2 linked regions of the Homo sapiens genome follow. The protein of the gene in region 2 purifies or fractionates together with the protein of the main gene of each other region. This does not show direct contact. Each region holds a gene or a part of one and is shown on either strand. Other genes may lie near its edges. The genes, in order: RUNX2 and SMAD5.

Region 1 (3,570 bases), on a different chromosome or scaffold from region 2:
GAAAATAGTGCCAAAGGGTTAAGAATGAGCAGATCTTCAAGGTCTCTAACTCTCCCTGTGATGTGGGTCAGCTTGGCCACTGGCTGACCTTCTCTGCACCATGTTTTCCTGGGTCCCTATTTTAGAATTGTGGTGAGCCCAAGCATTCAGAAAGCATAGGACACAGAGAAAGCAACCTTTCTACCCCAGGTCTTCAACCTTATCACAAGGGGGGGGACTTACCAAAAATAAACAATGGCCACGGGAAAAAAAAATCTCCAAACTATAGTTATGTTCACTAGGAGAATTCTTCTGAGGCTATAGCCCTCCAGGCCAAGGTCCGTTTTTACTCATCCTTGGGCTTTGGTTGACTTTATTTTTAAGAACCCAAAAGAGATGTGGAAAGGAAAACAGACTAGCCTATATCTGGGCTGCCTGAGATCTTCTGTTGATAGCCAGAGGTTCACTTGCGGGGCCCTGTTCATGTTCTCAGAGATTAGAATCATGAAGCCATCGAGACTGCATCTATACGCCTGATAGGTCCCCCAGTTGGAATAAATGGCCTTACTCAAGGATGAGGTGAGCACTCCTTCCTTCAGACACAAGCTAGTAAGGAAGTGAGTTCACTGCTAGATTCTTTGCCCACCCCTCGCTAGGAACAGGACAAAACAAGAAGACACCGTTTACCAAGATTTTTTTTCTTCTCCCCAGTAATATAGCATCTCTTCTCTTAACTAGCCCTGGCAAGTCCTAAGACCAAACAGTGCCCAGGTGTAAGCAGGAGTAGACATCAGACTAGGGAGAAACCGTGAACAAGAAAAGACCCAAGGTACACACATAACAAAACCAAAAAAGCCATTTTATTGAAAATTAAATTCAAACTTCAAATTAATATTACAATCATGAGAAAAATGCCAAATAATTCAATTTACAGTTGCAACATACAATACAAATAGTCCCTTTGAAGTTAAGAGTAAACTCATCCACAATCATGACCTGTGGCACAAAGCGGAATTTTTACAATATGTGCATGGAAAGCAATTCTTGGGCAATAGCAATTGGAAAAAATAAAAATGAAAGCTTGTATTTACACAAAATGCTACAAATATTTTTGTTCCACAGAAACCTAAGAATGGTAAAGCATATCCAAAAGAAATGGAATTTTATTCAGAATACCTAAGAAATTATTGTAAGTTATGGTTTTGGCTGATATATTTCAAAGTACTGCATTAAAAAGCAAACAGTTATTTGTAAACATGAAGTAAACACACATCTAAAAAATTCTCACATAGAAAATATTTTTAAATGCATTCGTTTTCTAAAAACAACAAATTCAAGGTTTGGAAGAAGTGTCTTTTATTATTGTTCTTTCAAATACCATAGGTATAATTATTACTTTTGCTAATGCTTCGTGTTTCCATGTATTAACCTGGATTCTGGGCCAGTCCCTTTCCTCGGAATTGAGGGAATCCTTAAAGCTGTACACACATCTCCTCCCTTCTGAATTTATCACAGATGGTCCCTAATGGTGTGGACTTCTCTGCTCATTTTGAAAGGGCTCTGGCAAGTGAGAGGCAGTGAGACCGTCTAAAGAGCAAACGATAGTTAATCTGTTGAGTTTCTCAGTTCTGGGCTGAATGTTATTCCACTAATCTAAAACCAAAGCTGTGGTACCTGTTCTGGAACTCTGATATGGGTTAAAATTTGTGAGACAACTGAAATGGATAAAAATGTGGCTGCATTGAAAAGACTGCAAATTCCAGCAATGTTTGTGCTACAAAGAGAACCACGCTATTTTAATTCCCAGGAACTAGTACATGGTTCCACAGTAGTAGTAAGACTTTGCTTTGGTCTTGAAATCACAAATCAAACACATGACCCAGTGCAAATTAAGGGTTCAGTGAAAAAAAAAAAAAAAGAAAGAAAGAAAAACAAAATTTTAATCCCTAGACCAAAAAAGGGCAGAATTTGTTCTAAGAAATGTGAATTACCCCCATTGGGGTGGTTGGAGTGAGGGTGGAGGGAAGAAGTGCTTGAATTTTTCCCAAGGAAAAAAAGCTTCTAAAGTGTTTCTGGGTTGCTGCCTGCAGCCACTATAGTAACATTTCAACACAAAAGCATCCCTAAAGTCACTCGGTATGTGTACTGTAAACTTAAAAAAGCCCTTTTAACATTAAAAAATAATGTACAAATATAGTACCTTTTTAATTAAATAGGATGCAGCTGGCACTGGCGGTAGCATTTTTATGTCAATTAATTAAAATTGAAATGTGTAACCAGACACTGGCTTTTTTAAGTGCTGCTGAAACAAACACACATATTTTACACTTACAAATAAATGGACAGTGGTGTGCTTCAAGCTACCACACACAAACAATAAATAGTATCAATTACTACTTCCTTCTTACTTAAGTAATAGAAAAGTGGCTTATTTATCTAAGCATACTTGGTATACGGCCTTTAGAAGGCAAAGTGTTTTGCTTTCCCATCCATTTTTATTAGAAGGAGTCAGGATGAATTCCAAGGGAGACTCCCAGGCAGGAAGCACAGGTCCAGCTGCCCCACACGCTGTCCTGCAATGCTGGGTGGCCTACAAAGGTGGGTTTGAGAAGGACCAGAGAACAAGGGGGCCGTTAGGGTTTGAAGGCAAATCTCTGCTAAATTCTGCTTGGGTGGGTGGAGGATTCCAATGAAGGGACCCTGACTTTTCGGGGAGGAGAGCAGGGATTGGCCTGGTGGTGTCATTAGATGATCCTTGTTTGGATTAAGGATTTGCACTTGGAAATCTGCCATGTGACTGCCAGGAGTGGTCAAAGTGCATGCCACAGAAGGACTCTAGCTCAAATTCATACACACTAGTAGACACCAAACTCCACAGCCCCTTGCCCTCCTTGGCCCTCCATTGTAAGAAATACAAATGTCAAAGGCTGTCTGTAGGTCCCCGTGGGCCATATGTCCTCTCAGCTCAGCTACCTGCTGGAACCTGCTGCCTTTTCAGAGGACCTACTCCCAAAGGACAGTGATGTCATTCTGCTCCTCTAAATGCAAATTCTGTGGAAAGCTGCCAGTGGGGCCTTGGGTAAGGCAGATTGGGGTTCCCCTGTTGTGTTGTTTGGTAAGGCTGGTTGGTTAAGAATCTCTGGTGCAATTTTGCTCTCCTGTACTAGGTGTCTCATAATTGAACCCTCTATCCACATGTGCGGCTTTTAGCTGACTATGTCTTTGCTATGAAGCCTGGCGATTTAGAGTTTTGCTTAACTATGAAACCACAGAACATTTTTCTGTAGTTCAATGATTTACTTGTGCTTGTCTTTTTAATATGACAAGAGTCATAATTACCCCAAAGAAATTAGAAAACCACATCACTCCAGCATTTCATGCTGATAAAGGGCTAAAGGTTGTTTTTTAAATCCCTAATTACCGCTTTAGAAGGCAAAGCTGTGTTAGAGGCATTCAAAGATCTGAAAGAACTAAACATAACATTTCCTTCATACATCACAAAAACAATCTATATCTAAAATATTTGGAGATGGAAGTATTTTTTAAAATCACATTGTGCCTGGATGAACTGAAATTGCTTAGCAATATTTC
Region 2 (5,706 bases):
AAAAGCTGGGATTACAGGCCTGAGCCACTGTGCCTCGCTCACCATTCCTTTCTAATTAGAATGAGTTTGCATGTCTTGTATATGTAATTCAGAGGTTGGTAAAAGTGTGCAACACAGTGACAATGATGCAAAGTCAGTCTGTGATTTAAAATTTTTTCAAAAAAGAAGACAAAAGGAAATAAAAAATTGTAAATTCACAAAGTGGATCATCAAAGGTTGATACACCGAGGTCAAGCAACATAAGAAGTAATTATTCTGAATCAAAGAACTAGTGGAAATGTAAAAGATAGTAACAATTTTAATATTTGAGTTCTTATGTTCTAAGTACTGTTCTAAATACTGTATTTGTATTACACTTCAATTAATCTTCCCTCAAATCCTTCCTATGAAGTAGACTTTTCCTTTACAGGTCAGGAAAGTGAGGCATAGAGTGGTTAAGCAACTTGTCTAAGCTATGAGGCCCATGACTCAAACGCAGGCAGGCCAACTCCAGAGCCAAAACAAAAAAAGACACATTAAGCAGGTTTTGAGGTTTATTAAAGTAAAGAATTAGCAAACAATATGCAAAAACAAAGTTCTTAAGAGTTATGGCTTTCAAAAGCACAATATAGTAAAACCTAATACATTTTCATAAGTATCAAAATAACAGAATTGAAGCATGTTGCTAGAATTTCAGCTTCTACAACATAAACAGAAGCACAACAAATACAAATAAGCAGCAGACCTACAGTGCAGCCACTAGCTTGGTCTTCATTATCTGTATATGAAATATCTTTTTAAGAAAATGTGGGCAGGTAGATACAAACATTCTATTTCCATGATTACAATCCTCTTCGATTTTAAAATAAGTGAATTTCAAAATACAACTTACGCCAACCATATTTAAAAAAAAAATCACTTGCCTAACCATTATCTTCTAGAGTTCCTATAGTTAAAATACTTTATGAATAAATCAATGCAACATCATCTTCAATGATATTAGAAGGGAAAATCTGACCCTAAAAGATTTTTTTTTTTTTTCCACAAAGAACTTGGGATTCTTTGGCCTTACTGGAGTTTTGTTATAGCTAACACCAGTCTGTATTAATTAAGAAGGCACTATTAATGAGGGACGGAAAAATCTACCTGTACACAAAATTCTGTACTTTAACAGCATCTTCAAATAAACCTTTAAAGGATAATGGTTTACGATCATTTTAAGAATTTTAAGAACTGAGTTATTTGGACAAGAACCATACAAACCTTTTTCACTCTGCCATGAATGATCGAAGAATCCTGCTCTAGGACTGGATCTTTTCAGAGAAAATAACTTATCACCTGTTTTACTGCAGTTGCTACTAGCAATTATTATATAGCATGTGCTCTTCAAAACAGAAATAAAAATTGATGTGTGAAATCCCTTTCATTGGTTTTGGTAAACCATCCAATTTTGGGCTGTCATTTCAATTATAATACAGTTGTATTTTAAGAGAGAAGATAATCCAATATAACAAAGGCTTGATAAATATTGTCACTCTGTAATCAGGACATACTAAACTGTAATTCAGCGAATTCCAAAGAACTTTCCAGGTTTCTGTCCAGCAGGTAGAATTCTTTGTTTATGCAGAAGAAATGCCTTCAATTCTCACATTCGATTCAGGCATCTTGTGTGATAAGAAAAGCTCCTAAGAATCTTACTTATATCAATGAGAAAAATGCTGCTGCTCTGGGAGACCTGAGATTACTCCCCAAAAAGCTGCCCTAATAATATCTGATACCACCTATAAACCACCACTTAGGAAAACTCTCTCCATAAAAATCACCAAACACTTCTAAAACCACCAGGCTACCTACTACCCTAAGATACTTGCTCATCTAGCTGAACAATATAACGATGACACACATTTATATTCATACCCAAGAGATTAGGTGAGGATTTAACTAGTAAGACAAAGAAGGGATCTGACATTCTTTAAAGTTAAAATGTAAGTCCAAAATATAAGTCATCACAAAAGGCTGAACTCAGTAATTATCAAAAAATTCTTCCTTCCTCATGAAGTAAAAAGGATATTTATATATTTTAAGTGGCAAAGGTGATAATCATCCAAAGTACTATTAAGCAATTGATTAGAAAAAGTATAAAGAAATAGATCTAAATTGGTACATCAGATGTTCTCTATCACAGAAGTACAGCACTTTGATAGGTACTATCAAACTTTTTAGAGTTTCTCTGCTGTTGGAAGAATTTCATTTTTTGTATAAACATTCTCTTCCAACAAAATACTACCACACAGGGGAAGGAACTGTTCCCCACAGGTACCCTCAGGTAATATGGAAGGTTTTTAACATGAACCCCAGTTCTAATCTTGACAACAGATTTCAGGTATGAGTACTTAATAATCACTTCACATCCTGAAGGATATCTTACTCTCAAATGTTATGAAAGGTATAAAATAGCTACATCCTCTATCTGTGCCATTAGATGTGGCTTGTTGAACTGTCTAGTACTCTTACTCTGGATTTCACCTCAGAAACCCAACCAATTCTATTATTTTTTTTATATAGCAACAATACAATGTGAAAAATTATTTATATTCTGACACACATATTTGACATTTTGATTGACGTCTTCCTTAAATCTCCTCTTAAAAAGAGGGTTAGTTTTAGCAGATCAATAACACGCCTACTAGTTTACATTTCACGTCAGCCAGGCAATACTGACCAGACCAATACTGACCAGACCATAAATATTATGTAGAAATGTTAAGCAAATGAATCTCTTATATCTTGCTTTTTGCCAATCAATATCTTTTTGTTGCTTTAATTCATTACTGAGATTTCATTCTATTCTGCTGTTTGCATTACCAAACTGGTTGCAATTTTATTATTCCCAGATTCTGTCTTTTCAGCCAGCATAAATATATTGTACATGCTATGTGATTATTCTAGTGGTGCTAGAATTTTACTATAAAACATTCTGTAGATTAAATTAAAACATATAACCATAATTTGCTAAAATGGTTTCTTTCAGAGGTACTTTCCTTTCACTAGCCAGTTTTTAAAAATCTTACTAGCAAATTTTATCTCCTATACATAGATATATGAAAATCCTTAGGGACTGTAAGAATAGCTGGACTGAATAAAATTTTCATTTAAAGTCCAAGGGTGGGGAGTTGACAACTTTTAGGAGATACAACAGGCTTATAGTTCTCTGTCAAACTCTTAGTTGTTAATAGCTTTAGTACTGTCATTCATGAGACACAACTCCTAAGAGAAAACAAAGAAAAGGCCAATCACGTAAGATCTTGTTAACTCAAGACTGTGACATAATGACCCCAAATAAAAACAATTTTTAATTAACTCACAGTAGAAAACACCAATAAAACAACTCTCTAATTTCCACTAGTTTACTGCAGCCCAATGAAGTTGATTACATACATCAGTCATTCAATTGGAGTAATTTTTTCCTACAAATTTGTTCCAGAGATCATGCCATAAGCCTGGTTAAGTAAAAGAATGATGAAAATGCCAAAGTTCTATCAAGTAAGCAAATATTCTCTTTCGTGTGGCAGACAGAACTCTGGAAGAAACAGAATGCATGTCATGTAATACTTACATTTAAGGCTCAGGTGACTGTCAGAAAGTATTTCTTTTACCCAGCAAAGAACTGTGAGCTGAAACACAAATGGCAGTTCATCTGAAAGAACTAAAACCATCCACTGGCTGCACATTGAAAAAGCAATAAATAATGACACAGAAAACAAAAGAAATTGCATAATTCTTTCCTCGAAAATGCTTTTTTTTTTCTTCACAAGAGCAGAAAGGACAAAGTGGAAAGTCAAACCAAACTAACATTTTAAACAGAAGAATGATATGACTCCATATACTTTCAAAAGGCACCAGAAAATAAAGCTTTCACTGATAGGTAAATTAGGTCATTTTTTTTTTCCAAAATAATTTCTTCATTCTCATGTCATAATTAAGTGTCCATTTGACAGCTCCTGAGAAAAAAACTGGTTCAAAGTTCTTTATCCAAAGCCAAAAACATGATTGATTAAATGGATATTTTGGAGTTCGTTCATGTCTTTTCTCTCTAAAGATTGTGTTTTGGGAGACTAGCTTCCACATAAGTACTTAAAAAATGGAAAAAGAGGATCATCGATAAATGAGAGAAGAGTCTATATTCGTTGATGGGTGAGTGTTTTGTTTTGTTTTGTTTTTTGAGGCAGAGTCTCGCTCTGTCGCCCAGGCTGGAGTGCAGTGGTGCGATCTCGGCTCACCACAACCTCCGCCTCCCAGGTTCAAGTGATTCTTCTGCCTCAGCTTCCCGAGTAGCTGGGACTTCAGGCACGCACCACCATGCCCAGCTAATTTTTGTATTTTTTGTAGAGACAGGGTTTCACCATATTGGCCAGGCTGGTCTCAAACTCCTGACATCATGATCTGCCTGCCTCAGCCTCCCAAAGTGCTGGGATTACAGGTGTGAGCCACTGTGCCCAGCCGAGTGTTTTAAAATCAGCTATCCCTACATCCACTGCTGATTCATTTAGTATCAAATCAGTAGCCTTATCCTTGGGGCCCAACTGAAGAGCCTCCTACGGCTCCAGTGCATAGGTCCTTGCGTAGGGAGGCTGATACAAGTAAGCTGACACTTGTAAGAGCAATGGGATTAACTACATGATTCTCCAGCACTGATAACACCCATAAAACTGTAGGGAATTAAAAAGGCACCTTAAGTTGGAGCTATAGAATAACAGTCTTATAACCTAGGTTGAAAGTAAAACAAAAACCAGAAAAAAGCATAACTTCCTACAAATGTAATCTATAAATTGCAGTGTTTGTTAATACAAAAAAGGTACCAAGGACGTAAGGATAAGCATCTAAGTCCAAGTCACTTGAGTGTATTTTATCAAAGGTTATGCTAAAAACTGTCACCCATAAAAGTGCAAAATAAAAGATTAATGCATGTCAAAAATAGAGTTCTTGCAACATTGTCCAAAAGCAGCAAACATAGTTGAACAAGGCTGTGCATGCACTGTCACTAGCTATAAAGTAATGCTTATGACAGATTTTGAGTAAATGACATATACTTGAGATCAGTTATTTGCAAAAATTTTTTTAAAAAAGGAAATGTCTTACAAAAGATATATAGCATGAAGTCACATTACACTGAAGAACACTTATCTGTATTAAATGTAAATTTTATGTCATCTAGAAAACTATCATTTTGCTTTTACTGAACACTACCAGTTACAGCAGTGCATAGTGTTCATTCAAATAAAACTTTATAGTTTCTTTTAAGCCCCTACCATACACTTTTGCAAAACAATGAATTGTACTTTTTTTTTTTAAGTTGGTGGGACAAAGAAACTGGTAAAAGTACAGCTTCTGGAAGATCGAGAGTAGGAGGGAAAACTTACTCTTCACTGTATATGCCCTCTTATAAGCTACTATAATTTTTCATCATGTGATGCATTTTCAAATAAATTTAATAAAAAATTGTTAGGGCAATAAAGTAAAAGCATGTTCCAGTTTAAGATCAATGCCAAATTTCTGAACTGGGGCATAATACTTACTCTGCATCTTTTACAACACTTCTAAGAGTTAATCACATGAACATGAATACAAACAAATGTAGATTCATCACAAAATACAAATGTATTGGTCACAATTATGTAGAAAAAAATAAGCTGTAATATCTGTTTTCAATGTAAGCTCACAGTATCT

Evidence for each region.
Region 1: the proteins of SMAD5 (region 2) and RUNX2 purify together in Homo sapiens (affinity purification with western blotting; 2 studies listed by BioGRID and IntAct, with this or other methods). This does not show direct contact.

The regions. Positions count from the first base shown.
Region 1 is NC_000006.12:45,548,330-45,551,899, reverse strand, and holds the end of RUNX2 (runt-related transcription factor 2), read right to left. Parts: 3' UTR 818-3,570; downstream 1-817. UniProt on the Homo sapiens protein: Transcription factor involved in osteoblastic differentiation and skeletal morphogenesis. Essential for the maturation of osteoblasts and both intramembranous and endochondral ossification.
Region 2 is NC_000005.10:136,177,548-136,183,253, reverse strand, and holds the end of SMAD5 (mothers against decapentaplegic homolog 5), read right to left. Parts: 3' UTR 521-5,706; downstream 1-520. UniProt on the Homo sapiens protein: Transcriptional regulator that plays a role in various cellular processes including embryonic development, cell differentiation, angiogenesis and tissue homeostasis.